Linked DNA regions of Homo sapiens: regions 2 and 3 are each linked to region 1. Evidence: fine-mapped expression QTL. A gene starts in region 1. Each other region holds a variant in brackets. All regions are shown on one strand. Distances are from middle to middle.

Region 1 (10,069 bases):
CCTACAATTTGCCTTTTTTCTCTCTCAACACTATTTGAGAGATGTATCTGTGTAGATATAGATCTGGTTTATTCATTTCTAACCACTGTAGAGTCTTGCATGGTGTGACTATTTTGATTTAGTTCTCTATTCTACTTCAGGGAAGGTGGGTTTTCCTTCATTTAAAAAAACGCCTGCATGGACATTCTTATACAAGTCTCTTTGTGCACACGTGGGAGAGTTCTTCCAGGATATGTCTGGCTGTGGACTAGCAAGTCCAGCCTCACCGTGTATCGCCAAATTGCTCTCCAAACGATACCAATCTCCACCAGCAGCATCTGAAAGTTCCCATTGCTCTATATCCTTGCCAGCACGTGATGCTAACACTCTTCCGTGTCGGGAAATCCAATAGGTGTGAAATGGTATCTCATCGTTGCCTAAATTGCAGTGCTCCAATAACCCCCAGCGAACTTGAGTGAAGCTGGGCATCATTTCTTATGTTTACTGGTCATTTGGATTTCTCTTCATTGACTTCTCCATTCATAAACTTCCCCATTTTTCTACCTGGCGTGTATCTTTTTTTCTTAGTGATTTATAGTTTTCAAAATAATCTGTGTACTAATGTATTTGTTATATATTGTAAATACTTTCCTGGTCTATTCTTGCTTTTTAACTCTGTTAGGATGCCTTTGTTTACATAGAATTTTTATCTTAATGTATCAGTCTCTTCATTTTGAAATTTATTTTCATAACTTGTGTAGGGACTCCTTTCCCGGTGTGACAAAGGTATTCCACTGCAGCTCTTTCTAAAGTTTTATATACAGTCTTTAATCCCATCTGGAATGTACTGTTGTGTAATGTGAGGATCTAATTGTTTTTCCATGGGGAGAGCCTGTTCTCCCAGCACCATTTAGTAAATAGCCCATCCTTCCCCATCTATTTGTAACTCTTCAGCTCACACATACAAGTTCCCACACATGCTTGGGTTTGAGTTGACTCTACTGCTGGACTGTCGTTACCACAACTCCCCTCCTCCTCTTCTTTCCCAGAGTTGTCTGAGGTATTCCTGGACCTTACTCTTCCATATGAATTTTATAATTCATTTGTGTGATTTCATATTCCACATTAAATCTTGTCACAGCTTAAACTAGATTACATTGAATTTGCAGATTAAATTGGGGCAACTATGAGAGCCAGCCCTCCCATGCATGAACACAACGCATCTCTCCATTTATTTAAATTTTTTTTTTTTTTTTTTTTTTTGAGACGGAGTTTCACTCTTGTCGCCCAGGCTGGAGTGCAATGGTGCGGTCTCGGTTCACTGCAACCTCCGCCTCCCAGGTTCAAGCTATTTTCCTGCCTCAACCTCCCAAGTAGCTGGGATTACCGGCATGTGTCACCAAGCCCAGCTAATTTTTGTATTTTTAGTAGAGACAGGGTTTCTCCATGTTGGTCTGGCTGGTCTCGAACTCCTGACCTCAGGTGATCCGCCTGCCTCAGCCTCCCAAAGTGCTGGGATGAGCCACCATGCCCAGCCTAAACTTTCTTTTCTCAGTCCTTCTTCTAAATATTTTATGTTTCTCTATAAAAGTCTCACCTTTTTAAAAGACCTATTTCAACGTATCTAACAGCTTTTATGCAAGAATGAAGAATGGTTTCTTTCGTCTTCTCAGATGTGCTGCCATGCAGGTGGCTGTTGCTGATCAACTCCCTTATTAGCTCCAGGGGTTAATCTCCAGGCTCTTTTGGATTATCCATGTAGTTATGTCATCTGCCGATAATGACATTGGACACTTCCACATTTTTATTCCCTTTGAAATCCTGTGGTGTTACCTGGACTGATGAGTAGAGGGACAAAGAGAGGCTGTCTTGTCTTGTCCCTGGTGATGCATATTTTACAATGGAGAGGATCCACAGCCTTTATCAGGTGCTGAAAGGGAGCCATGACACAAGAAAGGTGAATAACCACCAGTCTAAATTACCTCTGGGCCATGTGAAATAAACTGAATCCAGTTATTAGTTGTATGGAAGAAAGTAAAACAAGCAAGAACCTTGAGCACAGCGACTATCTGGGAGAAAACCAGGGCTGCGATTCAGGCAAGTACAGAACATAACACTAATTGCCCATTAAGGGCTTGGAGAAAGAGTTTCACAAAGGAGACCTCAGAACAGAGAATACGGCAGAAGCAAATGAGCAGGGATGGAACTGTCAGAGGTGACATATGCGTACCATGTGAACACAAACAGCTTCCTTCCCTTACTTCACCCCCATTTACTCATCTGTAAGTCAAAGCTAATAATATCTACATCTTATTTATGAGTCACAAATTCTCCTGGCTGAAAAAAAGGCAAATAAGGTTTTCAAAGAGTTCTTATTGAGTGGGTAGAGGCTCAAATGCTCCAGGCCTTTTCCACATTAGCAGTGCACTTAGAGGGGGGAAAGAAAAGCTCGTTTTGGAATAAAGAGTAATAGGCCCTCCGTGAGTAATCACACACAAGCCTCTGAGACAGCTCCTATCCCCAACCAGCTAATCTCTGTTAGTGAATGTCACCGCAGTGCCACTGCCAGCACCATGCCTGAGTGACCGGGCTGCGTGGCATTCATGCTGGCTGCACTAGACAGAGCTGGGGAGACCCCGATTAACTCCCCAGAATATCCTGGGTACGGAGTGTGCATCGGGGCGAATCTTCTCTCCCATCCGCAAAACCAGGAGAGCAGACTGCACTAAGAACTCAGTGAGCCTGACAGAGGTTGTCTCAAAGGGGCGGCATGGCCAAGGGTTAGGCATTTTTATTCCCACAGATAGAAATTTCCGGGGAGAGTTACCTGTGCCTCTCTGCCTCTCTCTTGCAGTGTGAGCTCACAGCTCAATTTCAGCTCCATTCTGCTCATTTAATTTTAGAATCCCAAAACCCAGGCACTTTGTAATTTATCGCGTAGTTTAAGAGTCACTTTTAGCTGAAGACAAATTGCTGGGCCACCTGGGCACAGCAGCGAAGTGTGGCAGGAGCCAGGGGCACTACGCAAACATGAGGAACACCTTCTTCAGCCTGGACAATCAGCCAGGGAGAGTCAAGAACTACAGAGACAAACGAAGTCAGTGCTACCCGACGGCAAAATCTGAAATCACAGGATGTTTGGAGGGCCTTGAGTGGTTAAAAAAACTAAATATCTATATGGATATACATGTGCGTATATGTATGTGTGTATATGTGTATATATGTAACATTTTATATATATATATGCATATATTTAAAAGGTCTCCAAAGATGTGCTAGCATTCTTTCAGTAAACTCGAACCTGCCTTGTGAAGATTCCTTCATTCGAATGGTGGAATCCACCCCTCCAGCCACACACCTAATAGTACATCAACGTGGGGCTTGGGATGCAGAACTAATGTCATTTCTATCAATCAGGGACGCCACCACACCTTGCTGGCTTCTGCCACGGATAACGATGAAACTACATTTAACACTGCCTGGCACTAAGGTTTAGAGTTATGAGTCGGTGCTTCCCTGTCACTTCACTTAACCCTCTGAGTGTGTAGTTTGTAGATTTGTTAACTGCACTGAGAGGTCCCCTGGTGTGACCTCAAAATAACGGCCTCTCCAGGAGCCATAAACATGGATCAACCCCAACTCACCGCCCCTCAGCCCGGTAGCTGGTTGAGAGAGGAAAAAGGGACCCGCCGGGAGGTCCTTTGAGGGTAATGCCGCCTTTGTGCCCAGGGCGTGGCCTGCTTGCTCACTGACAGAAGAGGGGACAGCCGAGGGCTGCGGGGCTGGGAGGGCCCCGTGGGGGCCGGTGAGGGTCAGGCCCCGGTCCAGGCTCTGTGGCAACGCAGCATTAGATCTTTCCGACAACCCAGCGGTGTAGACATTGCCACTGACTGCAAAGGAGCTTGTCAGGGGAGCGACTTGCCAAAGGTCACACCGCTCGGCCATCAGAACCGCGGCAGAAGCCCCCACACAAAGCGCCCTCCCTCCGCTCCTGGAGAGGTTTTAAACCCAGGACCCCCGGCCCTGCGCTGTCCCAAGGCCTCTCCGACGGCGGCCGGGCTCCAGGGTGCAGGCTCCCGGCCATCTACCCCCGGGAGCCGCGGACACCGAGGGAGCGCGAGTCCCCGAGACGCCGGGCCACGCTCATGTCACCCAAGCAGCGGCCGCGGCCGCCTTGGCGCGCGCACCGGGTCCGGAGCTCGCGCCGCCCGTCGAGGGCAGAGGGGCCGCTCCCCCGCGGGGGAGAGCCGGGTGGGCGCCCAGGACCCAGCGGCGGACGGCGCGCGACGCCTGAGGCAGCCCAGACTCCCCCGGAGCCCGGCAGGTGTCCGCGCCGCCCCGGCTTCTGAGGCCACACTTCCGAGCGCGGGGTTGGGCGGCACTGCCGGGGGACTTGCGGTCGGCGCGCCGGACCTGCGTGGGCGCCCACGCGGGACCCCAGTCCCCCCCACCCCGCCGAGTGTCCCGCGCGCGCCCCCCCGGGCGACACCCCCCCCCGCAGGGCGCCCCGGCCGCCCGCCGTCCCCAAGCGGTCCCGGAGCCTTCCCACGCGCGCGCGGGGCCGGGGCCGGGCGGACAGGACTGCGGAGGCGCCCCCCTCGCGCGCGCCGGAGGCCGCCGGGAAAGTTTTGGGCGCGCGGGGCCGGCCGCACTCACCTGGCCCAAGTTGAGGTACCCGTGCGCCGCCGCCACGCGGTCCGCCTCGGCCGGGCCGCCCAGCACTTGCACCGCCCAGTGGTTGGTGTAGACGGGGCGCGGCGGGGGCGCGGAGCAGGCGGCAGGCAGCGCCAGCAGCAGCAGCCAGCGCCAGGGACGCGGCGCGAGCGGCCGGAACCCGGGCCCGCCGGCGCCCCCCGCGCCCCCCGCGCCCCCCGCGCCCGCGGCGGTGTCGGTGGCGGCGGCGGCCCGGGGCGGCGGCCGGGGCCCGGGCGCAGGCGGCGCGCGCGGAGGCATAGCGGCGACAGGCTCGCGCGGCGCCCGAGCTGCGAGTGCGCCGGGGGGTGGAGTGCCGCCTTTTAAAGCCGCTCCGCGCCGGGGAAGCGCCGCCGCCGCCGCCACCGCCGCCGCCAACACCGCCGCGGGCGGGAGCCGGGGAGGAGGAGGCGGCCGCGGCGCGTTCCCGCCCCCGGGCCCGCGCTCCTGCGACCGGGCTCCGGGGCCGAGAGCCGTCCGGGAGGCCCGAAACGCCCCCCACCGGGGGAACTTCCCCGCCGACTTCTGGGGCTCTCGGGACGCGGTGCCGCCCCAGAGGCGTCCTCGGCCCGCGAGTTCTGCTGGGAGCGGGGAGGCCCCGGCGTCTCAGGTGAGTCCCCGGTTCCCTAGACCGGCCGGACACCCGAAGGCCGCACTCACCTGGCGGGGGCCTCAGACGCCTGGCGGCCTCGCCCGCCTCCCTAGACGGAGGGCTCGCCCGTGTGCGGGGTCCCAGGGAGAAGAAGCTGCGGGGAAGACAGTGGGTCGCCCGGGACCAAGCCTGGCTGAAGGGACACATTGAGCGGGGCAAAGGCATGTGGCGCATCAGCCGGGCTCACGAGCGTGTACCCGAGAAACCACCGCACGGAGCCCATGGCGGAGGCCGCGGCCCATGCTGGGAGGCAGGCCGTGCAGGTGAACCCCCAGGCCGCGCAGGTGAACCCCCAGGCCGCGCAGGTGAACCCCCAGGCCGTGCAGGTGAACCCCCAGGCCGCGCAGGTGAACCCCCAGGCCGTGCAGGTGAACCCCCAGGCCGTCCGCTTAGCCTCGCTGCGATCTTGGGCAAATGACTGTGGTGGCTGAGGGCAGGCGCCCCACCTGCAAAATGCGGGGAACAGTGGCATCTACCCCGTCGGGCTGATTTGAGGATGAGGTCAGCTTTTGCTGTACAATAAGCTGTCCGTAAACGTTCGTTTTTATGAGCCCAGGGCCTGCCGTGTGGTAGGTGTTCACTAGACGATGTACACTCTTAAAAGCACCCACTGAGCTGGGACCAGCAGTAGAAAGTCAGCTGAATCATCCTCACCCCTGCTTCCTGGAGCAGCCTGGTATCCAGTGGATAATGATTTGAAGCACCCTGGAGATGGATGGAAATGTTCACACCATAATCAAGGAATTATGAAGGGTAAGGATCGCTGCTGGATCTCTTCTGTCATCCCTCCCAGGACCCATTGGTCCTACTGGCCCACTTCCAGAAAGCAAGCCATCAACCTGCTTAATATAGGAAGTAAAACAAAAAGGTCGAGAAGGCCTTGAGGTGGGAAGGAAGCTGCTTCTCTGATGGTCAGTTCCAGGAGCGGTCTCTTGTTGAGCGTGCAGGATTCACTTGGAGTCTGTGGCTTGGCAGCTGGAGGTGAGAGGCTGGGGCGAGAGGGGATGGGCTGAGGACAGGATCTGCATAGATGGTTTCCGAGGTCCTTTCCAGCCTCGCTCTCAGGAGCCCTTTGGTTTTGTAACCCACGTGATTCATCATTTCTTCAGGTGTGAGTCACCCCTAATGGAGGTGGGAGAACAGGAGGCGTGGTGGGAGGCCCCATCCCAACAGGCCACATCCATGTTCACAAGGGCTCCTGCCAAGGGCCCATCTTGGAACCTGGAGATCAACGTCCCACATGGCCTTCGCTTTGCTACACTAGATGTAACTTCACCTCCCTGCGTTCCCCTGGCAAGTGGGGTCAGCTGCTTGGGCCGTCACTCCAGGCCTGCCCACACTGCAGAAGACAGCCACCGTGTGTCCCTCCTACAGATGGACTGGATGCTCACCAGCCCCTGCCAGTGGAGAGACATGAGGCCCTCATGCAAACTGGCAGCCCTAGAGGAGAACCGGCCATACTTGTTGGACAGAAACAGTACCCAGAACTCTCAGTCTGCCTCTGCCTGACATGGCCCTGGCTGCCTAGCCAACTGGCTTGCAGAAGAGGGACATTGGCCTGAGTCAAGGGGACGGGGTTGGAGGCATTGCATTGTCACCTAGCAGCAGTATGTCTGGGCAGCATGTGTTACCTCTCTTCCCCTTCCCCTGCTGGCCGGATGTCCCTCAGATTCATCCTGGATCTGGTGCCGTTCTTCAAATATGTGGCCTGCTTCAAGATAATGTAACTGCACATCAGCTAAATGATTATAAAGCAGCTGGTGCCTCCCAAGACGGAGCCCCCGCAACGGCAGTGATTTTGACAGGCAGAGATAAGGGTGTTTCCATAATAATGTGGTAGATTAAGGGATTCAGCCTGCTGTACTGAGGGGAGACTAAAATGCATCTGAATTTTTATTTGGAGAGATCTGAATGTATTTTACTAACAAGTCTGGTCCTTTTGGGCTGAACTTTCCATTTGTCATGGAAGTGCCCGGCAATATCTTGACTCCGATGTTGTAGGAAGACCAGCTTCCCAAAATGAACATCCTGAATCGAATCGCCTCCTGTGGGTTTCCTATTGATTCACACGGTGACGGGATTAGCTCAGTCACGGGAGTACCAGCCCTTTTCATTGTGATAGGATCTGTAATAAAACTTGGCTAGTCGTCCTGCAGGGAGGGGATTTATTACTCAGGCTCTGGCTCTCCACATGGCCCCCGAGGTCCACACAGCTCTGTGGGGAGGGAGGGGGTGCTGCTTTCCTAGATTGAGGTCTTCGAGCCTCAGGAGGGACAGGACATGGACCAGAAAGGTGATTGGAGCCTGGTCATATTTCGGAAGTTTTGTGATATTTATACTGACATCTTCTAAAATCAGAAAAGAGGAGAAGACATTGAATGATGTGTTCTCATGCCCACCACTGATCCCTTTACAGCAAGCATGGGATTATCCGGCCAGAGTCCGGGAATACCCACGCAGCCAAGACCACAGGACAGCAAGAGCCTTTGCACAGCCTTCTAGGATGTGATAAGACATACTTTGATGCAGAAATTGCCTCTGTGTAGGGAATAGACACTTTATTGAACAATTACATTTTTGGCAATATGCTAGGTTCAGCAGGCCAGACTAGCATCCCTTGAAAAATAGCTGATGGACACCACCTTCAGGATACCGGAGATGAGCGTGGACTCAAAGCCCAGCTTTGTCATTTACTCATGTGCAGCCTCAGTAAAGTTGCTTCAGTTTGCCCTACTGAAAATAATAGTAACGCTGCTGTCCCCATACAGAGGGGCTATGAGGATGACAGGAGCTGATGTGAGCAGAGCCTGGCACCCAGAGCCTGGCATGAAGTCAGCACTCCATAAATAGTGGCAACAGTGACCACTGCTGACCAGGCGCTCTCCAGTGGGATAGAGTAGTTAGGGCTGAATACTCTGACCTTCTCTGGATAAGGGCTCACTGTCCTCATCTATGCCTGGGTGCACATTTTCTCACATCTTAACATCCCCAAATCAAGAAACATCTCACAGTTGGTGTTTTGCAATCATCACTGGCCTGGACTGAAATTGAGTTCTTCCAGAGAGGGTTTGTTTTTGCTTCTGCCAGTGATCTGGGGACACAGCTCCTGAAACTCCTTGGGGATCTGCTGAATGGTGTGACCCCAGTGTGAGAACCAGCTTATGGTTCTAATGATCAGTGCAGGGCATCTCCCTATTTCTCCCTCCCCTCGCCAGGGCCAAGATAGAAACCTGATGATTCCTTGCTGTTCCTCTCCATGGTGGGTTTATTTCTCATTTTCCCCTGTACTGACAGTAGAGTCTTTATTTTCCCTCCCCTCCCCTCTCTCTCCTCTCCTCCTCCTCCTTCTCTCTCTTCCTTCCCTCCTTTCTTTCTCTTTCTTTCTTTCTCTTTCTCCTTTCCCTTCCCTTCCCTTCCCTTCTTTTCTCTTTCTTTTTCTTTTTCTTCTTCTTTCCTGAGATGGAGTTTCACTCTTGTCACCCAGGCTGGAGTGCAATGGTGCAATCTCGGCTCACTGCAACCTCTGGCGTCCGGGTTCAAGTGATTCTCTTGTCTCAACCTCCCGAGTAGCTGGGATTACAGGTGCAAGCCACCATGCCTGGCTAATTTTTGTATTTTTAGTAGAGATGGGGTTTCACCATGATAGCCAGGCTGGTCTCGAACTCCTGACCTCAGGTGATCCACCTGCCTCAGCCTCCCAAAGTGCTGAGATTACAGGCGTGAGCCACCAGGCCCAGCCAACAGTAGAGCCTTTCATTGTTCCATCTTTAGAGAGGCATCTCCTGTGAGCCTTTCATTGTTCCATCTTTAGAGAGGCATCTCCTGTGAGACTTTCCATCTTGGATGTTTTTTTTTTCTTAGTAATATGTTAAATAATGACACATCTTCCAATTGAGGGTGTATCTTAGATTTGATGACATATGATATTAATGCCTTCAAGACATATTGCAGTAAAGAAACTTGTTGAATTCTTCCAAATATATTTGCTGTGTCTGTGTATGTGTGAGTGTGGCATCTATTGATATCCTACAGAAAAGGTACAGAGAGTACAGCATTTTTCATGAAAATCTGTTGTGAATCCTCAGCAAGGTAAAGGCTTTTTCAAAGTAATTGCCTGGCTCAGTTGAATTTTCAAATACATTTCTATCGGGAGAATCCTCGGATACTTTGGGCCAGACAGCACTCAGAGGTGAGATACTGTTGGGACGTACAGTCATTCCTTAGACCTGACAGTGCTTCTTGAGCCCAGATAAACACCCAAGGTCCCCAGGAACAGGAGGTGTGATGCAGGTCGCACACAGCCAGTGGGCCTGAGACATGGAGAATCCGGGGCAGACTACACCTCTGCCTCCCACCAGCCCCTCCCACCGTCCCCAACAAACCTTTACCCAAGCCCAGGTTTCTACAAACCGGGGATTTCCCCAGCCAGGTCCTCTTCTCTCCCTTTCACGCTTTTCTTTTCTCTCCTTTTTACTCACTCCAAATCCCACTCACAGCTGCTGCCCATAGCAGTGGTGGGTCAGGGGCCTTTGCTCCCCTGCAGCTTCAGGCTCTGCGTCCTTCTGGGCTCTGCCTTCTGCTCGGTGTACACAGTTTTTCAGCGGTCTCTTCAGTATCTGCTCATTCATACTGAGCTCTACTCCCTGCTGGGGTGGGGGGACATGTGACTATCGGGGGTGGGGAGGGCATGGAGCAGCTCCCACTCTACTCTCCTCTCTGCTTAAACTCTCTTTATATCTAGATCCT
Region 2 (10,069 bases), 37 kb after region 1:
GATAGAAACATTACTGCATTTGGTGAAACCCACGCCCAACGGCCCCAGGCCTGCAGCAACCACCCCACAGAATGATCAACACGGAAACTCCAGAGCAGTAAACAGGCCAATTTCAGATCCAGCGACAATCCCAGCAGGCGGCCAGGGGAAGAAAAGCAAGGACGACAGCAAAGACAGACGGGTGCCCACAGGTTCCCTGTAGCTACCGCCACGGAGTGGGAACCCCAGCCAGGGCACAGACAGAGGCAGGGCCCCTGTGAAAAGGGGCAAGGACTCAACTTGCAGGGAAGCACTGCCTTGTGCTACCTTTGTTCACTAACGTGAAATGCTACTCTGAGTGTTCCTTATTTTTAAATCAAAAATTTAAAAACCACACACACACACAGAAACCTTTCCATCTATTGACATATTACATACAGCATCATATGAGTACAGTTCGACGAATTTTGACAAACCGAGCCCACCCCTGTAAATCGCACCCAGACCAAGACAGAAGACATCAGCAGCTCCCAGGAGGCGTCCCTGTGCCCCACTGCCATCAACACCTGCCCCCACGCCCACCCTCCAGGGCAACCACCATCTGAACATCCTTGTTTACACGTCTTCCCGGACTGGAATTGGAATCCCAGAAATCAAGTGGAGTAAATGAAGTGCAACTTTGTGCCAGTGTGTTTGAGTTGCGGCTGCTGGGCCTGCAGGTGACAAGGCGCTGCTTCCCCAGAGACCTCTTTCAGCATTCCCGTGGTATTAGGAGAAGGCACTGCAGCAGAGCAGAGAGAGGAGCAAGGCAGGGCTGGGGAAACTGCTCACATGGAGAGATGTGGGAGGCAGTGTCTCCACGAGATGTCAGGGCCCTGGAAGAAAGGAGACCCTGTTGGAGGGGCCAGGCAGGACGAGGGGACACTAAATACCAGTGGCAGCCATAGAATGATGTGTGTGAAGTGCCACCAGCCACAGGGCTCAGCCATGCAGCTGGGTGGGGTGGGGGTGTGTGAGAGGGTCCTGCTTAGATAGCAGCATCACCACCCCTAGGAGCTGGGCTTGGATCTGATGAGAGTCTGTTTCCTCCCCTAGATGATGAGCCGTTCCCAGGGCTGGCCACTGAGGATCTGGGTCACACAGGCCACTGTCCTCCCCACATGAAGTTTGCAGTCAAGTTAGAAAGATGACAGGTAATGAGGTCCACACCACACAGCTTTGGTGTGGCACGTGTCAACACATTCGCCGACAGAACCAGTGCATGAATGAAAGCTTGAGGGCACAGAGCACCTCTCCTGTCTTGCCTGAGGTGTCCCCAGGAGCAAGCCTGACAGCCAGCTGGGCCACCCTGTGAGACCGGGGCCCGCTGGAGCCTTTCCATGAGGAAGACTGAGCCGAGCGCCTGCACTAGGAGGAGCCACGGTACCGCCAGGCTCCTGGGCCCGCTGGGGGAGTGGGCTGCCAAGCACCCAGTGAGCTGCGGCTGAAACAATGATGACATTTTGTCATCTCTGTCAACACAACAAGAACTTGGGAGGCAGGCAGTCCCCCGCCATGCACAGTGCCCAGTACTGTCACCAGAGCCTCTCCTTTATCCTTCTCCTCTGTCCCATCAGCTGCTGGTGGCTCCTCCCTCCCTGGCAGTCACAACACAGCCACCTCGTTCTGTGCATCATGGCCTCAAACTGCTCCTCCCTGCTCATCAGGGAGGGAACAGCCAATGTTCCCTGTGTCTCATTGGCCATAAGGTCACCTGCCCTGCAGGGTGCTGAGACAGGGACTCTGGTCACAGGTGGCTGTTGGAACCCTCCCTCCTCAGAGCTTCGCAGGTCAAAGGGATGCGATTAGACTCTGTCAACACCTCTAAGAGCTCCACTGTGCGCAACAGAGAACGAGATTCCGTCTCAAAAGAAAAAAAAATCAATCTATCCACCATCATAACTTTAGTCAATATGCTTATTCCGTCACCTCTTCATTTGTCATCCTTCAACAGTATCTACTGATTCTGCACTATTAAAAAATGAGAATTTCCCTCATTTACCCTCCCCCACCTCCTCTCAGTCACGATTGTTAGTTTTCACATTCGTTAGATTCGCACCTGTCAATATAGACTTGGGCATTTACTGCTTTTCCATCCAGCTGAGACTGCTGAATCTTCAGCACACCGTGGAGGCCTCTGAAGCCCTGTCCTGTCCTCCGTCTCCCCTCCCCTCTTCCCCTTCTCTTCCTCCATCCCGTGGGTTTTTCTTTTGCAGCACCAAGGATGGCATCATATTCTGTTTGATGAGCATAATTAAGTTTTCTGTTCTTTGTTAAGTTTTATCTGTGTTGAAAACAAGTCAACGGCATTCGCGTTTTTACAACTTTGTAAGTACCATTCATAGCAGCCAAGTGGCTTCCTTCTCTGTGGTTGGTGGCTTTCCCGGGGCCACAGGAGAGAATGACTTCAGCGTCAAGGCTGAATGCATTCTGTCTCTCATAAACTTTCTTCTTGCTCAAAACCATAACGTGGCCGGGCGCGGTGGCTCACGCCTGTAATCCCAGCACTTTGGGAGGCCGAGGCGGGCGGATCATGAGGTCAGAAGATGGAGACCATCCTGGCTAACACGGTGAAACCCCGTCTCTACTAAAAACACAAAAAATTAGCCGGGCGTGGTGGCAGGTGCCTGTAGTTCCAGCTACTCAGGAGGCTGAGGCAGGAGAATTGCTTGAACCTGGGAGGTGGAGGTTGCAGTGAGCCAAGATCATGCCACTGCACTCCAGCCTGGGTGACAGAGCGAGACTCCGTCTCAAAACAGAAAACCATAACATATTTTTAGTTTTTTCATGATTAGACTGTGGCTTTCACAGACAACTTTTTGATATCCCCCCCATGTTTGATTTACCTTTCATTTTTCTCATGGACGAAGAATAACTGCCTCTTGATTGCGCTTCTCTGTCTTGCAATCTGTGCTGTTTATTTATCTGTGGACATAGCTTCTAACTTGTCACTCCATACTCCCATTTGTAACTGCCAGGGCTGGAAGCCTATGAACTATATTCCCAGCTTCTCCTGATGCAAGTTTCCGGCCAATGAGAGGCACTGGAGGCTGGAAGGCTGGATCATGGGAGAAAGCATGTCCCCTTCTCCAGCTCCGGGAGCAGCTGGCAGCTGAGAGTGACTGCAATCTGCAGATTGGTGGTGGGTGTCACAATAGTGGCGGAGCTGTTGATGTTTAGGCTCCGTAGCAGCGGCCAGAGGGTAACTCCTGGTTTCTGGATGAGGGGCAATCGTGCTCATGAGCTCTCGTAGCTTCACTTTCCATTTCATTCTCCAGTTCTATAGGGGGTCAGTGACCTCCTGTAGCTGCTGCTCTCTGAGTGCTATGGAATGAATGTTTGCGTCCTTCCAGATTTTTATGTCAAAGCCCTGCCCCCCAATGCAACTGTATTTGGAGACAAGGCCCTTAAAGGTAATTAAAGTTAAATGAGGCTGGATGTGGTGGCTCATGCCTGTAATCCTAGCACTTTATGAGGCCGAGGCAGAAGGATCACCTGAGGTCAGGGGTCTGAGACCAGCCTGGCCAACATGGCGAAACCCCGTTTCTACTAAAAATACTAAAATTAGCCAGTCATGCTGGCACATGCTTGTAATCCCAGCTACTCGGGAGGCTAAGGCAGGAGAATCGCTTGAATCCAGGAGGCCGAGGTTGCAGTGAGCCAAGATCACGCCACTGCACTGCAGCCTGGGTGACAGAGTGAGACTCCGTCTCAAAAAAAAAAAAAAAAAAAAAAATTAAATGAGGTTTAAGGATGGGGCCCAGTCTGGTAGTTTGTTCAATTTCTTTTCAAAAGAGCATTGTTTTTGTTTTTGTTTTTGTTTTTTGGCATGAGGTTGTAATCGCTGTGTGCCTGGGGTCGGGAGGCTGACTGACAAGGCAGCTTCCTCCACAGACTTCCAGCAACAGTCCTGCCCTGGCTGCGCTCCTCTCCCCCAGGCCTCCAGGCCACCAGCTTGCAGCCTGTGCTCCTCTGGGGAGGGATCCCCCGCTCCCCCACTCCCAGCCTCGCCCTGACAGTGATCCGAGTTGCGGATTTTGGCTTTCTCCTCCATCCTCACCCGTCCAATTGCCCTCCAGCTCACAGAATCATTTTCTCAAAATTTTCAACTGCTAATGACCCTGTCACCAGGCCACCTGGCAGGGAAGCCCACTTGTCCCCTACCAATAGGCCCATGGTGTCTTGGAGGCTTTCCTGGTCTCCTGGGACAAGACAGCTGCCCGGCTTGTAGCCAGGACTGTGCCTGTAGCCCACCTGCTGTAAGGTCACGCCTGCAGGCCCTGAGTTTTACCGGCAAGATCTAAGTCAGTTCTCTACCAACACCCTAAGGCAGGTACTACTACTTTCTCCGTTTAGAACTGGGGAGAGTGAGATGCAGAGAGCCCCTCCCCCGACCCTAGGCAGAGCCCGAGACTCGCCGCAGGCTCATGCACTGTGCCACCTGCCCTCCTGAGGCCACGCTCTTCTCACGGGAGGTGGCCCTGTGGCCTCACCTGGGCCGGATGGGAATTGCAAACTTGAAACCACTACGTCTTTTTCCCTGTTTTTATTTTAAAAAGGATATTAAACGAACATATCTTTTAAAAATTAAAGTGAATTGAAGTTCATTTTCATTTTATCCTGAGAGGTTCACAGTAGCTCTTGAAATAAATGAAAGTGACTTTAAACGGGCTTTGTTTTGAGGTGATCTCAGCAGCTCTGAGGATACGCACAGCAGTCTTGGAGTCTCACAAAACTCGGCTGGAAATCTCTGGCCCCAGAGGGAGGAAGATGCTTCTCTATTTCTACCTGAGGCCTTCCTTAGGCTCCTGGTCAGGAAGGGAGAAGAGACCCCGGGCAAGGGGTGAGAAGTGGGGGTGGGGGAGTCTTGCCCCTTCCTCTGGACGACAGAGCCCATTACTAGAGGGAATTTCAATGGTGTTTCCAACCCCAGGTCTCACCCAGGAAGGAGGAATCTAAACAAACTCAGCTGCCAGTGGCTCCCCCATAGCGACAGTTTGAGGCCGGATTCACTGAAGTTTTCACAGATGAGTCTAGGTAAAGTTGTGGGGGTTTTTGCTGTTGTTTTGTTTTGTTTTGTTTCTTTGAGACAGGGTCTCAGTCTGTCGCCCAGGCTGGAGTGCAGTTGAGTGATCTTGGCTCACTGCAGACTCCAACTCCTGGATTCAAGTGATTCTCCTGCCTCAGCCACCCAAGGTGTGAGCCACCATGCCCAGCTAATTTTTGTATTTTTAGTAGAGACAGGGTTTTGCCATGTTGCCCAGGCTGGCCTTGAACTCCTGAGCACAAGCGATCCGCCCACCTCAGCCTCACAAAGTGCTGGGATTACAGGCATGAGCCACCGTGCCCAGCCAAAGTTGTGGTTTTAAGCAGGATGTTCCAAAGTCCAGTGGTTATGACCAAA[C/T]GCCACACAGAGACAGAAGCCTCCCGCACAGCCCCAACTCCCAGCAGCCATGGTGTTCCAGGTCCTCCAAAGTCAGCTTCTCCTCCAGGAGGCCACTGAGCTCCCCAGCTGCGGGGCTGAGGCCACACAGCCCTGTGCGGTTCATCTGCCATCCGGGCCCTTCTTCCTCTTCTGAGCTTCACAGTTAGCCCAGGGAAGAAAACAGGCGTGTCTTCCACAAACCCTGAAGGGAATGGGAAGTGCCAACAGTGAGAAGGACTTAGATGTAAAGGATTTACACACGGTCACGGCATTTCCACAACCCTCTGGGCACCTGAGTACACGTGTGCAGACACACCCCCAGATGGGGGCGAGGGGTGGGGTGCCCCAGCTATTCACACCTAACCATGAGCGTGTGAGGCAGCAACACTTAAAGGCCACTTGCTTTCCGCAGCATCTCGATGGAGCAGGAGCCTGCCTGGGGCATCTCCAGGCAGCTTGGCTGAGCACCCAGGACTGAGTGCAACCCTCAGCGTTTACATTTTTTAGTACTATTCACTAAGAGAGAGAGAGACAGAGAGACAGTGATAGAGACAGGGAAGGACAGAGACAAAGAGAGCAATGGGTGAAGAAAGAGCAAGCAAGCAGGGATGTCGGACATTTCACACAACGCAGTCACCAGGGAGGCAAGAACACTTACAGAACAGTTTGAGCCAAAGAGTCACTCAGGGACAGGAACAGCAATTTCTTAAATATTTAAAGCAGACACCCTGTGAGCGGCTGTGGAGGCGGCTCTTTGTTAATATTTAACACGAGCTGGGCAGTTGCCGGGAAAACAGCTGTTTACAGGAGAGATTAACCAATATTCATCATTGCTCAAAGCTGTGGGGAGGCTTCAGGGGACAGGCAGCTGCCGGTATTTCTAGAATACAGCAGCTCAAGGCCACAGGGCTGGGGAGGCTCACGGTGTCCCCAGGGTGCATGAAAACTGTAAACAGGCAGTTCGGGGTCACCTACCCTGCTCCAGAATCACGGTTTGCAGGAAACCCAGCCCTGCAGCTGGGCCTGGGTGGTGGCTGCTGGCCGGCCAGCCAGCACCTCGCTGGACAGCTGCGTCCCACAGTCCCAGGCTGGGCTGTCCTTCAGGCCCATCCACAGTCCCAGGCAGACTCCTCGTGCACTCCCTGCATGAAGTCGGGGGCAGGTGCTCGAAAGTAGAGGGGTTCCCACTGATGGAAAGTGTCACCAGCCTGCCTGCGAATCCCCCAGCTCACACTTGGGCTTGCAGGGACACCAGCCAGGCCGTCTTGCAGAGAAGACAAGCTGCCTATTTTCAGGGGCTATGAGTCTTGTTCATGACAGTTTTCTCCTCTATGTGCCAAACATTCAAGAGCCTGGCCATTTTCACACAGCCCCATAGCCTGGGTGAATCAGGCCTCACTCCCCTGTACTTCCTTCCAAACATTCTATCACTCCCAACACCCTCCACCCAGGCCTCATGGAACTACACACAGATCACGCTTGGGCCCAACTGGATGCGGAATCCCAGCTCAGGACCAAGGAATGCTGCTGCTGTCTCCACAATGCCCTAGACCTGCAACCCTGGGCGCTTCCTGGCATACCACTGCCCACTCTGCCCACACCACAGCTGACTGACTCCTAATGGCTCTTCAAACAGTTGTTTGCACACCTGACCATTTATTATAAAGGAAGAAGCGCCGAACAGCACGTGCTGCTCTGAGGAATCTGTACAAGAATTGGGGCTCTGCGTATTAATCTTTGCTAAAATGAATTTAGTTTGGGTATTTAGGTTTCACAGCATAAATATATTTTTCTCTACTCTGAGACCAATTGGCACAGGCTGTCTAAGGCATTAGAAGAACAGTCCTTAATCTTTCTGTGTTCACAGCATAGTTCTGAATACCAGAAATCTAGAGGAATGCTTGAAGAGGTTTTTAAAAAATTAAACAACATTAAAGGAGTCAGCAATGATTTCCATCTCAGCAAAACAGGGGCCCTCAGGGTCCAGAAACATCCATGGCCATTGAGCAGTCACTTGGTCATTCTTGTGGATGCTTTTTTTGAGATGGAGTCTTGCTCTGCCACCCAGGCTGGAGTGCAGTGGCGTGATCTCGGCTCACTGCAACCCCTGCCTCCCAGGTTCAAGTGAGTCTCCCGCTTCAGCCTCCCAAGTAGCTGGGATTACAGGCATTAGCCACCACGCCTGGTTAATTTTTGTATGTTTAGTGGAGATGGGGTTTCACTATGTTGGCGAGGCTGGTCACGAACTCCTGACCTCAAGTGATCCACCCGCCTCGGCCTCCCGAAGTGCTGGGATTACGGGCGTGAGCCACCACGCCTGGCCTTCTGGATGCTTTTTATTTTGTGGTTATGCAGCATCAGGACAGCCTTTTAACATTTGAGAAGTGAACCGTCTTAGTGGGAGGCAAAACCCTGCTTCCCTCTACAGAAGCCTAAAAGGCCAAGAACGTGCACTCCCTGACACCGGTGGGGGGTAGCAGGGCTGTGCAGCCACATGCCCAGGAGGCACGGAGACTTCAGGGTCCGTCCCCCCATTCCCAGGTGGCAGAGCAGTGCCCCAGTGTCCTGGGTGCGAAGAGCAGTGGCTAGTGCATGCTCAGCACCAGCAGTGTCCTAGCCACATGTCTTGGGGCTATAGCTGTGGCCACTTGGCACCTCCAGGTTCCTGACCCTTCCCCACAGTGACTCAGCAGGGAGTTGTCTGTGAGCCACTTGATACCCTTTTACAATATTCCCTTTCTGATGATTAACCAGAAGTGCTTTGCAGGCGGGAAGCCTGGTGCGCACAGTCAGGGTCTGCCCTGTGCTGCTGCTTGAGGACTGTCTCCTGCCCTGACGGTGCTCTTCAAAGCTGCCGCGGGCCTGCTTGATGTAATGCTCACTTCTGACCTCTTTGCCCATGCAAGGCACACCCTGCCCTGCCGTCCCTCCCACCCCCTTCCTCCTTGGCATTCTGATGGACTCAGTGGTCCCCAAAATTGCACACATCAATTAAACCAGCAGCACACTCATGGAGGGCGGGTGGCGCCCTGGGTGCTGCTGTGTGCCAGCTGTCAATCACCGTGGGCTGGAATGTGGATTACAAGCCTGGAAGGGGTATCGCGCACTCAGGGTTTAGCCACAGTATACAAACGGCTTTTCCACCTTTCCTGTCCTGAAGGCCACAGCAGGGCCTGCTCTGCTCCCTGCGGCAGTGGTCCTCATGCTTGGCCAGGTGACTAGGCATACTCGCAGTTACTGCAGGGCCACTGTGTCCCCGGCTGAGCCTCGTGCCACAGAGAATTGGTCAGAGAAGAAGGCGGCTTAGAGAGGGTCCGGTTGGCCTGCAAGCCTGAGCCCCTGCCCAGGTGGAGATTAAATCCTTGTTACCTGATGGTATTGACGCTTAAAATTAAAACTGAGTTCAGTTACTGAAAATAGAGAAAGGGCCACTTCTATGCTCCTGAGATCGGAAGTGAGGTTTATCCCCCCGGGGATCTGAAGGATCATCCACTGGGCTTCCCTAAAGCGGCATTGTGTCATTTCTCCCGGCTAGGAGAGGTCTCCCCATTCTCAATTCCCGTCACTTATTCTCACTCAACAGAACCTCTCAGAGCACCTACCGTGTGCATGAGCCCAGTGTCGATGGGCCACGGGCCAGCCAGCCTGGGACGCGTGTCCAGGGCAGCTGGGATTTGGACTCTACTCCACGAGGCCACACAGGGGAAGGGGAAGCCCAGACGGCTGTCAGGGCATTCTTGGGAGCCGGGGGTTTGGAAGGGCTGTTGGGCGTGCTGGGGCACCGGCTAGGCTGTGGGGTGGTGACTCTCCTGCAGCCTTGGGGGGCTACCCTGAGATCATCTGTCACCCCACTGCTTGCTGCTCACTCCTGATCCCGCATTCTGGCTGTGGGCAGAGAGCACTGCCTGCCACATGCTGCGACCCGTGGCCCCTTCGCCAGTTTAATTTTCTTTTGTGCCCGTTCCCCCCTCAGCGTTCTAGTATTTTAATGTGTGTCCTTTTATTTGCTTGTGTCCCAGTATAAGACACACTATTCTATTTTGGTTTCTAAAATTATTTCTTTACTAGATTGAACCTTTTTAATTTTATTTTTATTGTGGTAAAATATATGTAACATAAAATTTACCATTTTAAATATTTTCATATGTACAGTTCAGTGGCATTAAGTATATTCACACTGTTGTACAACCGTCACTGCTATCCACCTTCAGAGCTTTTTCATCTTCTCAGTCTGAAACTTTGTTGCCATTAAACACTAACTCCTCATCCCACCTCTGCTCAACCCCTGAAAGCCATCTTCCTTCCTTTCTTTTTCTTTCCTTCTTTCTTTCTCTTTCTCTTTCTTTCTTTCTTTTTCTTTCGCCCTCCCTCCCTTCCTCCCTTCCTTCCTTCCTTCCTTCCCTTCCCTTCCCTTCCCTTCCCTTCCTTCCTTCCTTTCTCTTTCTTTCTTTCCTTTTTTTTGAGACGGAGTTTCGCTCTTGTTGCCCAGGCTGGAGTGCAATGGTGCGGTCTCAGCTCACTGCAACCTCCACCTCCTAGCTTCAAGCAATTCTCCTGCCTCAGCCTCCCAAGTAGCTGGGATTACAGGCACCCACCCCCAGGCCCAGCTAATTTTTGTATTCTTTT
Region 3 (10,069 bases), 39 kb before region 1:
TCTTCCTACAGATAAGTCACCTTGCTCACTTCTTCAACAAAGTTAACTGCCACACGTGTCAAAAGGCTCCTCCTCACCCGCACTAGAGCTGTTATTTAGCTACGGAGGCAATCACCGAGTCTCAACTTGCCGCAGTGTTTAATCAACATGTTTGCTCATAAGCTGCCATCATCCCTGGGAGACGTTACGTAACTTTTGGTCTTTTAACTCTGGGCATTCGAGTCAATTCCCAGTCAGGGACATGGAGGAACGAAGAGTTGAATAAAACTTGCTGGCAAAGAGACTAATTGCAGCAGTGCTGACCCTTAGCAGGCTCATGACAGGGGGGCCTGGAAGCCATTCAGGGCAGCACCTGGCCTTTGACCAGCTAAGCCAGGCTTGGGGAAGCCACCTTTCCCCTCAAAGGCCAGTCCCAAAGCCATCCAGCCCCCTGCCCCGGGGCCGCCATGACTGTCCTTTGCAAAGGCCCCTGGGTCTGGGCTGATGTCAACTGTTCTCCACGAACGATCCAGGAAAGGCACAGACAGTCCCCAGAATGCTGACCAGGCCAACCACCTCTGGAGGCAGCAGCGGCCAGAACTCCATCTGTTTGGACACTTATGTCCGGCCTAGCATGAGAGCTGGGGGGCCGGGGAGGGACGCTCCCACTGCAGGGGAGAAGGGGACACCAGCCAAGGCTGCCCTTGCAAAGCCAGCTGCAGAAGAAGCTGGAATCACACATTCGTCCTCTGTGACTGGCTTATGTCATTCAGCATAATGTGCTCATGTTTCATCAGTGTTGGACCATGTGTCAGAATTTCCTTCCTTTTTAAGGCTGACTAATCTTCCGTTATCTGCACATCTCACATTTTGTTTATTCATTCATCTATTTATGGACACGTGGATTACTCCCACTGCTTGGCTGCTGGGAATAATGCTGCTGTGTACAAATATCTGCTCGTGTCCCTGCTTTCAATTCTTTTGGGTATATATCCACCTACCGTTTTTTGATAAATTTTCTTGGAACATAGCCACACCCACCCTTTCCCTACTGTTCATGGCTGCCTTCCTACTACAATAGCAGAGCTGAGTGGTTGCAACAGAGACCCTAGAGCCCACGAGGATCAAAGAGTTCATATGTGAACTCTGAAACAGAAAAGGCTGCCAGCCTGTGATGTACAGCATTTGCTGCTGAGAGTATCAGGGGAGTTCACCAAAGTCTCTGATGTCAAGCAAGGGTTCTCTAGGGCTGGGAAGTGGCGGTCCATACACGGAGTGACTCAAACACAGGTGCGGCTGCAAGCCTAGACCTTCAGCATCTCATTGAGTCTCTGAGACGTGCTTTTTCCATAAACCTTGTCAGATGCTCCAAGAGGCCCCGTCCTTCTGTCTGACTCATGTGGTCCTGCCCTCTGCCCTCCCTTTGCAACATCAGGCACCAGGTCAGGAGTGTGAGGTTTTCATCACGGGCAAAACCAGTGAGAGAATCAAAGGTGACACAGCAGGAGGCAGGAGCAGCTGCCCAGGAACACAGGCCCATTGAAAGTCTCGTCGGCCCGGATGATGCTGCGTTTATGATACAGCCATTGCTGTCTCTCGTCCTCCCCACCCACCTAAGCCCTTCTAGGCTTCTCATCTGACCTACCACAGCAGGGTCCACCCCAGGTACGAGGAGGTTCTGCCCCTCCCCAGTGAGGGAGGCTGTTCCTTCACATCTCTGGGTGCCTTCATGGGGAAGGGGGACAGGATGCCAGGCTGTGAGGCCCCCAGGCTCACGCAGGGTCACCTGTGGGGATGTGGCCACTGGCCTGGTTGAACATGAAGGACACCTGGCTGCCCTCTGGCCCTGACTCACAGATTAGGGTGTGACAAGGACCCACAGAGATGTCCCCATTTCACAGATGAGTATACTGAGGCCCAGGGAGGTTAAGACTATGTCACACTGTGGGGCTCCCAGTTCCTAAACCAGCAGCCTCCCCATTCTGCTCACAGACAAGCAGGTGACAAAATTTGATACTAAATGACATACAGATACACGAGTAGGGTTTAAGATGACTGCCACACTTTTAGGACCTCTTCAGGGTCAAATGGACAGCGGTGGACTCAGGAAGGGGGCGGCCTAAAGACAAAATTCCAAATAATCTTCCAGGTAAAGTGAGGTTCTTTTTTTATGTGGCATTTGCCCTGATGGCAGGTGTTCCTCCCTGCTCAGCAGCCTGGACGTCCTGGGTGGCTGCTGCTTGGCTGTGGCCTCGGACGGTGTCCACACCAGGCGCTGGCTCTGCTCCCGTGCTCACAGCTCATCGACTACGCACCGCTTCTCCAGCCGGTGCCTGAGCAGCCCGCCTTTAGAATCAGGAGCGGTGGCTTCCACGGACTGCCGCTATCGGAGGGCCCTGGCAGCCTCCTCCTCCTTCCCTCGATTATAGAAGGGAGGCGCTGCCTCCACCATCCCAGGCTGCGTCCCAGTCCTGCTCAGCCCCGTGTCCTCCCCTGACCTCCATCTGCTCTTCATCAATGAATCTGACTGCTAGTCCACAAGGCATTGTCTTTGTAATGTCATAACATGAAATTTAAATACGTTCTTGTTCTCTTTGGTGCCCGTGGTATCTTCACAATGAATTAATTAGAGCCCGTCTCATGCACCATTCAAGAAAATAAACAATTTGCTGAATACAGGGTGCTCATGTTTCTTTACTCAACGTTGATAGGCGATTATATGCATTACTTGATCAAACTGATAACATCATTAGAACATCATTACAAACCTTGCTAAATGTTCTTGACCAGAACACTGGAAGGAATGAGATCAAAGAACTCACAGTGAAGAGAGTTTAATGTAGTGTAATCCTCTTTAACAAGATGCTCTGACATTTAAAAAAATATAGGTAATATGTGCACATGATACAAAACATGGAAGGTACAAAAGGGTACAGAGTTAGTGGGGAACAGCAATTCCCCCTCCTTCACCTGTCCCCCAGCCAGGGATCCTCACTATTACCGAGTGCCCCTGGCTCATTACAACAGCTGACGCTTGCTGGGCACATGCCCCATTCCAGGCAGCAAGCTTGGAGTTCAGATGAATTAATAAGCTTCATTTTCATAACAACTGTAGGGAGTAGATGTTATGACCATCCTCATCTGACTGATGGGGAAACTGAGGCACAGAGCAGTGAAACTGTTCAAGATTCATTTAGTCAATGAACAGTCAGGATTCTTCACCGTTGAACCTTCTGCCTCTCGGCATGGTTAAGATTGTTAGTTACCATGGGGAATTTCAGGCACCTTGGTCCTTGTCCTTTGCGGCAGGTTCTTTCCCAGAGAACCAGTACCCTCAGCATGTGTGCACTTTCCTTCATTTCAATAAGGAAATCATGGGAGGCCTATATTATGTTTCAGGTACATATTATTCCATTATGTCTGTATACGAGTGTGTGTGCATATGTGTGGATGTATAGAATGTGTGAGTGTTGTATACACGTGTATATACGTATGCCGGTGTGTGTGTGTGCATATGTATATGGATGTGCAAGTGTTTGTATACAGATGTATATATATGTATACAGTCATGCCTTGGCATCCGTGGGGGGCTGGTTCCAGGCCACCCTGCAGATGCCAAAATCCACAGATGCTCAAGTCCCTGATATAAAATGGCATCATATTTGCATACAACCTACACACATCCTCCAATACTTTAAATCATCTTTAGACTACTTATAATACCTAATACAATGTAAATGCTGTGGAAATAGTTGTTATACCATATTGTTTAAGGAAAAATGACAAGAAAATAGTTTCTACATCCACCATACATTTTTTTTTCATGTTTTTGACCTGAGGTTGGTTGAATGTGTAGATGTGGAACCCGTGGATAAAGACAGCCAACTGCATATGTATTCAGGCGTGTGTGTGTATCTGTGCATATACACGTGTATATACATATCCAGGTGTGTGTGTTTATGTAAGGTTCATAAACAAATGACTCTGAAACATACCAGGTAGGTCCTTGGTTTTCCCACAGTTCTCACATCCGAGTGAGCCTCCTGGGGCCACTGCTGGGTTGCCCTAACTCAGAACTCCAGATCTATGGCTCGCCACCTTCGTACATGTCAGCTTCACCTGAGTAGCTTGAGCAACCCCATGTGGGTGGGGGCTTGGCCCCAGATGGACGTTCTGGTTCCAGAGGTCTGAACAGCCACTGGGGAGGTGGGTTCTGAAATCCTCTGCGGGAGAAGCTGAGCTGTATCCAGGAACTGCATGAGATACCGAGAAGACAGGCCCAGAAGGCTGTTTCTTCATTTCCTGCCAACCAATCCTGGGTCCTTCCAGGCTCAGCTCAGCATCATCTCCTCTGGGGAGCCTCTCCCGCCTAAGGGGGTCCCAAGCACGTGGCCCCATAATGGCTGAGTCCTCCAGGGGCTGGGCCGGATCTGCACCATCTTTATCCACTGGCTCCTGGCAGGACCCCTAGGTCAGCACATAACTTCCACCACGCCAGAGCAGCATCAACAACACTGCACCCTCGCCATCCTGCACCCCAAACCTCTCCTCCTGAGGCGTTCCTTGTCTTGGTAAAAGCCACCACCAAACCTTCCCAAAGGGGGCTCTTAATGGCTCCCAAACCCGCTCCCCTCATCGCACCAGCCCTAGTGCAGGCAGCCCCACCCCTCTGCTTGGACCCTCGCTGGCCTCTTAGTCTCTCCCGTACCACCGCACTGACACTCCCACCCTGACTCCTCCTTGTCTCGGAGAATACACGACCAGCCAGGACCCCTCTCCAGCCACAGGCCTGGCCCTGCCCACACTGCCCTCTGTCATCCAGTGTAAGGGGCCCTGCCCTCACACACCGTTTCACACCCCTGTGCTCGCTCAAGTCCCCTCAACTCCTACTCTGCTTTTAACCATCCCCTCGGCTGTCACTGACTCCAGGAAGCCCTCTCAGGCCTCCCAGGCCCTGTATGCCCAGACATGGCTATGACACCCTTTGTCCTCCCTCCCTCCACCATAAGCCTTCAAGGGCAGGAGCTATGTTGTCTGTCAATTCTCAGGGCCTGGCTGTGTCTGGAACACAGAGGAGCTTGAAATCTGCCTGATGAAATGAACAGACTTCTGTCTCCAAATGACATTGGGAGGATACACAGGTCTCCCCCCATCCCATCTGTGTCCAGCTGTCCAGTGAGGCCCCGCATCCAGAGGTGGGGTGAGCATGCCCCCAGTGCCTTCTGGCCCGGGCTCTGCTGTCCTGTCTTTGAGCTCTCTCTCAGTCCCCGTCCCAGGACAGCTGTGAGGTCGGGAGGAGGCTATGGAGCCAGGCAGACCACCTCCCGGCTGTATGGTCTGGGCAAGACCCCCACTGGCCTCTCTGGTCTGAGGACTTGAGGCAGGCAAGGCCTGGCCGGGCACTCCCTTCCACTGGCCAGTGCCCTTCATTCATGGCACGCACCAGCCATGAGAAGAACTCTCGGGCGCAGGTGTGGACAAGCAGAAGCGGCTTGCAGGGCCACACAAGGGAGGGGTAGGAACCCTCACGAGGGGAAAGGCCTGGCTTGGGGTTTACAGAAAGGGCCTCCCCCATCATGTCGTTTCTTTAAATGTGA[A/G]TGTAGCTGGCTTCAAACAAAATCTCAGTGGGCGCTGCCAGCTCGGGTTCACTCTGCCAGAAAAGACTAAATGTTTTTTGAAGATCCTGAGGAATGGAGGAGGAAAGCCCAATCTACTTTACATGTTTAATTTGCAGCAAAGTCACCGAGAAGCACGCCGAATCTACCCCAAATGACATCAAATAGTTCCAAAGGTCCACCCGCCCACTCAGCTCTCCAATGGACGTGACTGCAGACACAGGTGCAGTTCGTAGCCCTCGAGCAGGCTGCGTTGTTGGTGGGGGTGGGTCGGCTAAGCGCATACTTTGGTAAGTCTGCAAAATCCCCACCCCACCTCCCCAGGCCAGCCCAGCCAAACCCTTCCACACGGGAACAGCTGATAAGCAGCCACAGAATGTCTCAATTCAAGGCCTCAGTGATGAATGGACTGCAGATGAGGCTTCTGACTTTGCAAAAAAAAACTGTACTTTATCACTCCCAAAGCCTGCCCTTGGCTGGAAACAGATGTTCCAAACCCCGTCCGCTCCGCAGCTGCAGCGTGCCTGCTTCCGGAGCCGCTTGTCTGTCTTCAGGGCCGGCATCTGCCGAGGGCCTTGGCTTTCTGGGAAGAGTCTATGTCTAAAAGTCATGGTCGTCCGAGTTCAGTTATATAATGTTATTGATCCCGGTTGGTTTGCTTAAGAAAAACACAACTAATTAGACTCTATAAAAACCTACACACCAAATTAATTCTGTATTGCTCTAGTGACTTCCGCCTGAAAAAAACGTTATAAATATAGATGACCACTGGACCTATATTTAGCCAGCACTGGATTACCTGGTATTTATAATTAAGGAAGTCCAGAAAGAGAGAGAGAGAATGGACATTTTGTTGTTATTTCTTAAAGCATTTTTTAAAAACTGCTTCCCATTTCAGTCACATATACACATAGCAACATTCTGTTATTGCAATAATTACAATCCTGACCCAAGTTAAGATGATTGCACAATTTCCCAGTCTCCTAAAATTACTTTCTTCAACACATATCCACCCAAACTATGCAATTAAGCTGTTCAACATCCTAAAAATTCCTGAGAAATCATTAATTCTTACTTAGCAAACTTCATTTTTCTCTTCCCTTAAGTCGCCAAACCAAATGGTCCGGCTTCGGATGAGAACGTTTAATTTCTACATGTGGTCTCGGCCTATATTTTCAAGGTCTACAAAAAGCTACCTGAAAAAACTACAATCCTGACTTTGAAGATCTCCATTTTAAATCATTTCCTGGTTGCAGGTTTCTTTACGGCTGTCTGGAATTAGTTGTTTTACCGGATTCCTAAATCCAATGCCTCTTGAGTATTCATTTTTGTTTTGTTTTGTTTTAATTTTAAGATAAGCTGTAAAACTCTTCTTTTTCCTGAAAAATTCCAGTCTAAAGTCATCATATGGGGAAGAACATGGTGTGTGTGGGGTGGGAAGATCCGGGGTGGCCCAGAACAAGGCACTGCTGCAACTCAGAAGGTGAGGAGGGCGCTCACATGGGGGAACGTGGAATCGAGCCCGTGGGGCTACGGGTGGGAACAGGCTACTCCAGATGTCAGTCCAGGCAGATAACCAGGCTGCCCACTCAGGGAAAGTGAAGACACAGGACATGGCAGATTGGTTACCCACAGAGCACAGATGGAACATGTTACTACATTAGGGGCCCTTACAACTGATAAAGACCGGTGGAATTCCCCGGTGTCCATGGCTGTGCTGCACGGCTCTGCAGACACAGTCCTTGTTTATGCAAAGGACACACTGGAGCACTGGGGCTGGCGGGGCCGGGGTCACCAGGTTCTCTGCGCTGGGTCAGTTGAGCTTTGCCCTGTGCATTCAATTTTTCTGTAAGTTTGTGATTGTTTCAAAAAATTGTAAAAGAAATTTTTAATTGTAATAAAACAAGGTAACCAGACCTTTTAGCCCCTTTCCCAAATAAAGCTTAAAGAATGTATGGTCTAAACTGAAGACAAAACTCTTTCTCTAACCCCATGCTGAGAAGCGGCGACAGACTGCTTCTCAGAGCTGCCCCATTCCTTCCTCCCATCAAAGGAGGGCCCGTGGGATCCAGGAATTATTTTGTAAAAGAGACAGAAAATGAGGTGTATTTCAAGGGCAGGTGACCTCTGGGGTAGGGAGGCTGCTTGAGGCCTGGCCCTGCCCCATGTGCCCAGGGCCCATACCTCACCCCCAGGCAGAGCACACGCCCCTGCTCCCCGCAGGCTGCCCCTGTGCAGCTGATGTGTTAGTGGGAATGGATTTGAGCCACATCTCCCTGCTGCTCGCTAACTTCCCTGTGCCATGTTTGGCCTCTCTAGTTGGGTGAGGTACCCCCGATGCCCACAGGGCCCAGCCTGGGACCCCATGTCAGGGAGGAGGTGAGCCTGCGGAGGCTCCAGGAACCCAGAACTGCGAGATCTCCTGAACTCTTCCAGAGAAGCCAGCATTTGGATCCGACATGCGCTCTCCCGAGTTTTTAATAATGGCAACTCATTGTACATGTTACCACCACTGTGTAGCCTGCCTAACACATGCCTGCAGGCTACAGGCAGCCTGTCGCCTGGAAAGTGGGGATCGAGACATTTGGTTGAGACTTTCCCAACTTGAGGAGGCCCACTGTTTACTTTTTTCTTTCTGAGTATGCGAGAAGTAGGGGGTGCCTTATCCTCAAGAAAGTCTCATCTAGAGAATTTGCCAGGGGAGAGAGGCTCCGGTACGAGTCCAGGTCTACTCTCAGCATAGGGCAGCTCTGCTCGTGAAGAGTGGACTGTGTCTGTGACCTTGAGCACCAAAGGCTGTGCACAGCACACCTGGGCACGCTGCTTACATCATGGATCAGAGAACAAACTACACTGAGCACCCAAGGCAGTCAGGGGGAGCCCGTCTGGCTCCTGCCAGGCCCCCTCCTGGACTCCCCAGAAAGAAGGGTCAGTGCTGGGCTGCAGCTCATGGCTACTTGGCCAAGGGAGGTCATGTTGGAGGAGGCTACAAGGTTTTTAAAAATAAGATTTTGTCTTTATGAAAGACATGTTGGAAATTCACATTTTAATACCTAAAACACCATCACTTGAGAGCAAGTTATCCCAAGGGAAATCAAAAGGAATTCTAGAAAAATTAATCTTCAAATTTTCACTTAAAAATATATACCTCCTGTACCCGAAGATGTGAAAACGGGGTTCTGAACAAATATCTGCATACCCGTGTTCACAGCAGCATTTTCCACAAAAGCCAAGGGGTGGGAGCAACCCAGGTGTCTGTGGCTGGTTGAGTGGATCGACAAAACCTGGCAGGGACACACGATGGAATATGGCTCAGCCTGAAAAAGGGAGGAAACTCTGATGCATGCTACAACACAGATGAGCCTGGAGGACGCTGTGCTCAGTGAAATGAGCCAGGCACTAAGGACGAATACTGAACGATTCTCCCTGTATGCGGTACCTGGAATGGCCAAATTCATAGAGACAGAATGTGGTTGCCAGGGGCTGTGGGGGAGGGAGGAGTGGGGAGTTGGTGTGTAAAGGGTACAGAGTTTCAGGCCAGGCACAGTGGCTTCTGCCTGTAATTCCAGCACTTTGGGAGGCCGAGGCAGGTGGACAGATCACATGAGGTCAGGAGTTAGAGACCAGCCTGGCCAACAGCGTGAAACCCCGCCTCTACCAAAAATACAAAAATTAGCCGGGTATGGTGGCGTGCACCTGTAATCCCAGCTATTTGGGAGGCTGAGGCAGGAGAATCGCTTGAACCCAGGAGGCGGAGGTTGCAGTGAGCCAAGATCACACCACTGCAGTCCAGCCTGGGCAACAGAGTGAGACTCCATCTCAAAAAATGAATGAATGAATGAATGAATGAATGAATGAATAAATAAATAAATAAAAGGGTACAGAGTTTCAGTCTGAGAAAATAAAAAAGTTCTGGAGATGGACAGTGGTGATGGTTGCATAACAACGTGAAAATACTAAATGCCCCAAACTATACACTTACAAACAGGTAAGATGATATATTTTCTATTATGTGTATTTGACCACAGCAAACAAACAAACAAACAAAAAACTCTCCTCTGCATTCTGTCCCCACCTTTCCCACCTCTCTTGTGTCACTCAGGATGCTGGGACTATGGCTCCAGTGTACCAGCAGCATCTGGAGGCCTGAGAGGGAGAAGGCATAGCCGACCCCAAGGCACAGCCAAGCACGGCAGTGCTGCCCAGCTGTTATTATTAACAGCTCTTAGCTCCGGAAAGCGCTTCCCATCCTTGGCCCCTCTCTATTGTGTGGTTTCCCTTAAAGGGAACAAGGACACAGGAAGGAGGTGGCAATCATCTCAGGGACGGCCAGAGTCACCTGACCGGGACTGACAGTCATGGGTGGTGAGAGTGTCAGCCAAACACCATGCAAGCTCAGCTTCCTTTTATCCTGGAGCCTATCCCAAATGATGGCTTCAAAGGCCTGCTGACCAGGTGGCACAGTGACCAAGCTC

Alleles and levels. Positions count from the first base shown, and alleles are read on the strand shown. Sizes are in standard deviations (SD) of each study's normalised expression.
In carriers of allele C in region 2, the expression in pancreatic islets of the gene that starts at base 4,969 in region 1 tends to be higher than with T alone (moderate effect, 0.63 SD a copy in PISA).
With allele G in place of A in region 3, the expression in atrial appendage of the gene that starts at base 4,969 in region 1 is higher (small effect, 0.36 SD a copy in GTEx).

Evidence for each region. PIP is the estimated chance that this variant, and not a neighbour inherited with it, causes the effect. A credible set is the group of variants that fine-mapping cannot tell apart.
Region 2: its variant is the best candidate, but not a certain one, in a credible set for the expression of PCSK6 in pancreatic islets (PISA, PIP 0.68).
Region 3: its variant is the best candidate, but not a certain one, in a credible set for the expression of PCSK6 in atrial appendage (GTEx, PIP 0.84).

The regions. Positions count from the first base shown.
Region 1 is chr15:101,484,739-101,494,807 of GRCh38, forward strand. It overlaps PCSK6 (proprotein convertase subtilisin/kexin type 6), which reads right to left and starts at 4,969. Exons shown (of 22, transcript NM_002570.5): 1 at 4,636-4,969. The coding sequence starts at 4,932. It overlaps LOC124903566, which reads right to left and starts at 4,415. Exons shown (of 2, transcript XM_047433427.1): 1 at 1-4,415. It overlaps LOC107987228 (a long non-coding RNA gene), which reads left to right and starts at 5,029. Exons shown (of 2, transcript XR_001751730.2): 1 at 5,029-5,586; 2 at 5,650-9,301.
Region 2 is chr15:101,522,216-101,532,284 of GRCh38, forward strand. LOC124903567 (a long non-coding RNA gene) reads right to left here and starts at 6,159. Exons shown (of 2, transcript XR_007064784.1): 1 at 6,102-6,159; 2 at 4,550-5,645. RefSeq lists an enhancer at 8,104-8,762. The variant C/T (reference allele first, on the strand shown) is at 5,423.
Region 3 is chr15:101,445,530-101,455,598 of GRCh38, forward strand. The region is part of intron 1 of PCSK6 (proprotein convertase subtilisin/kexin type 6); the gene reads right to left. Among named protein-coding and RNA genes, the nearest start is that of PCSK6, 39 kb to the right of the region's middle. RefSeq lists enhancers at 5,485-6,218, 7,235-7,529. The variant A/G (reference allele first, on the strand shown) is at 5,577.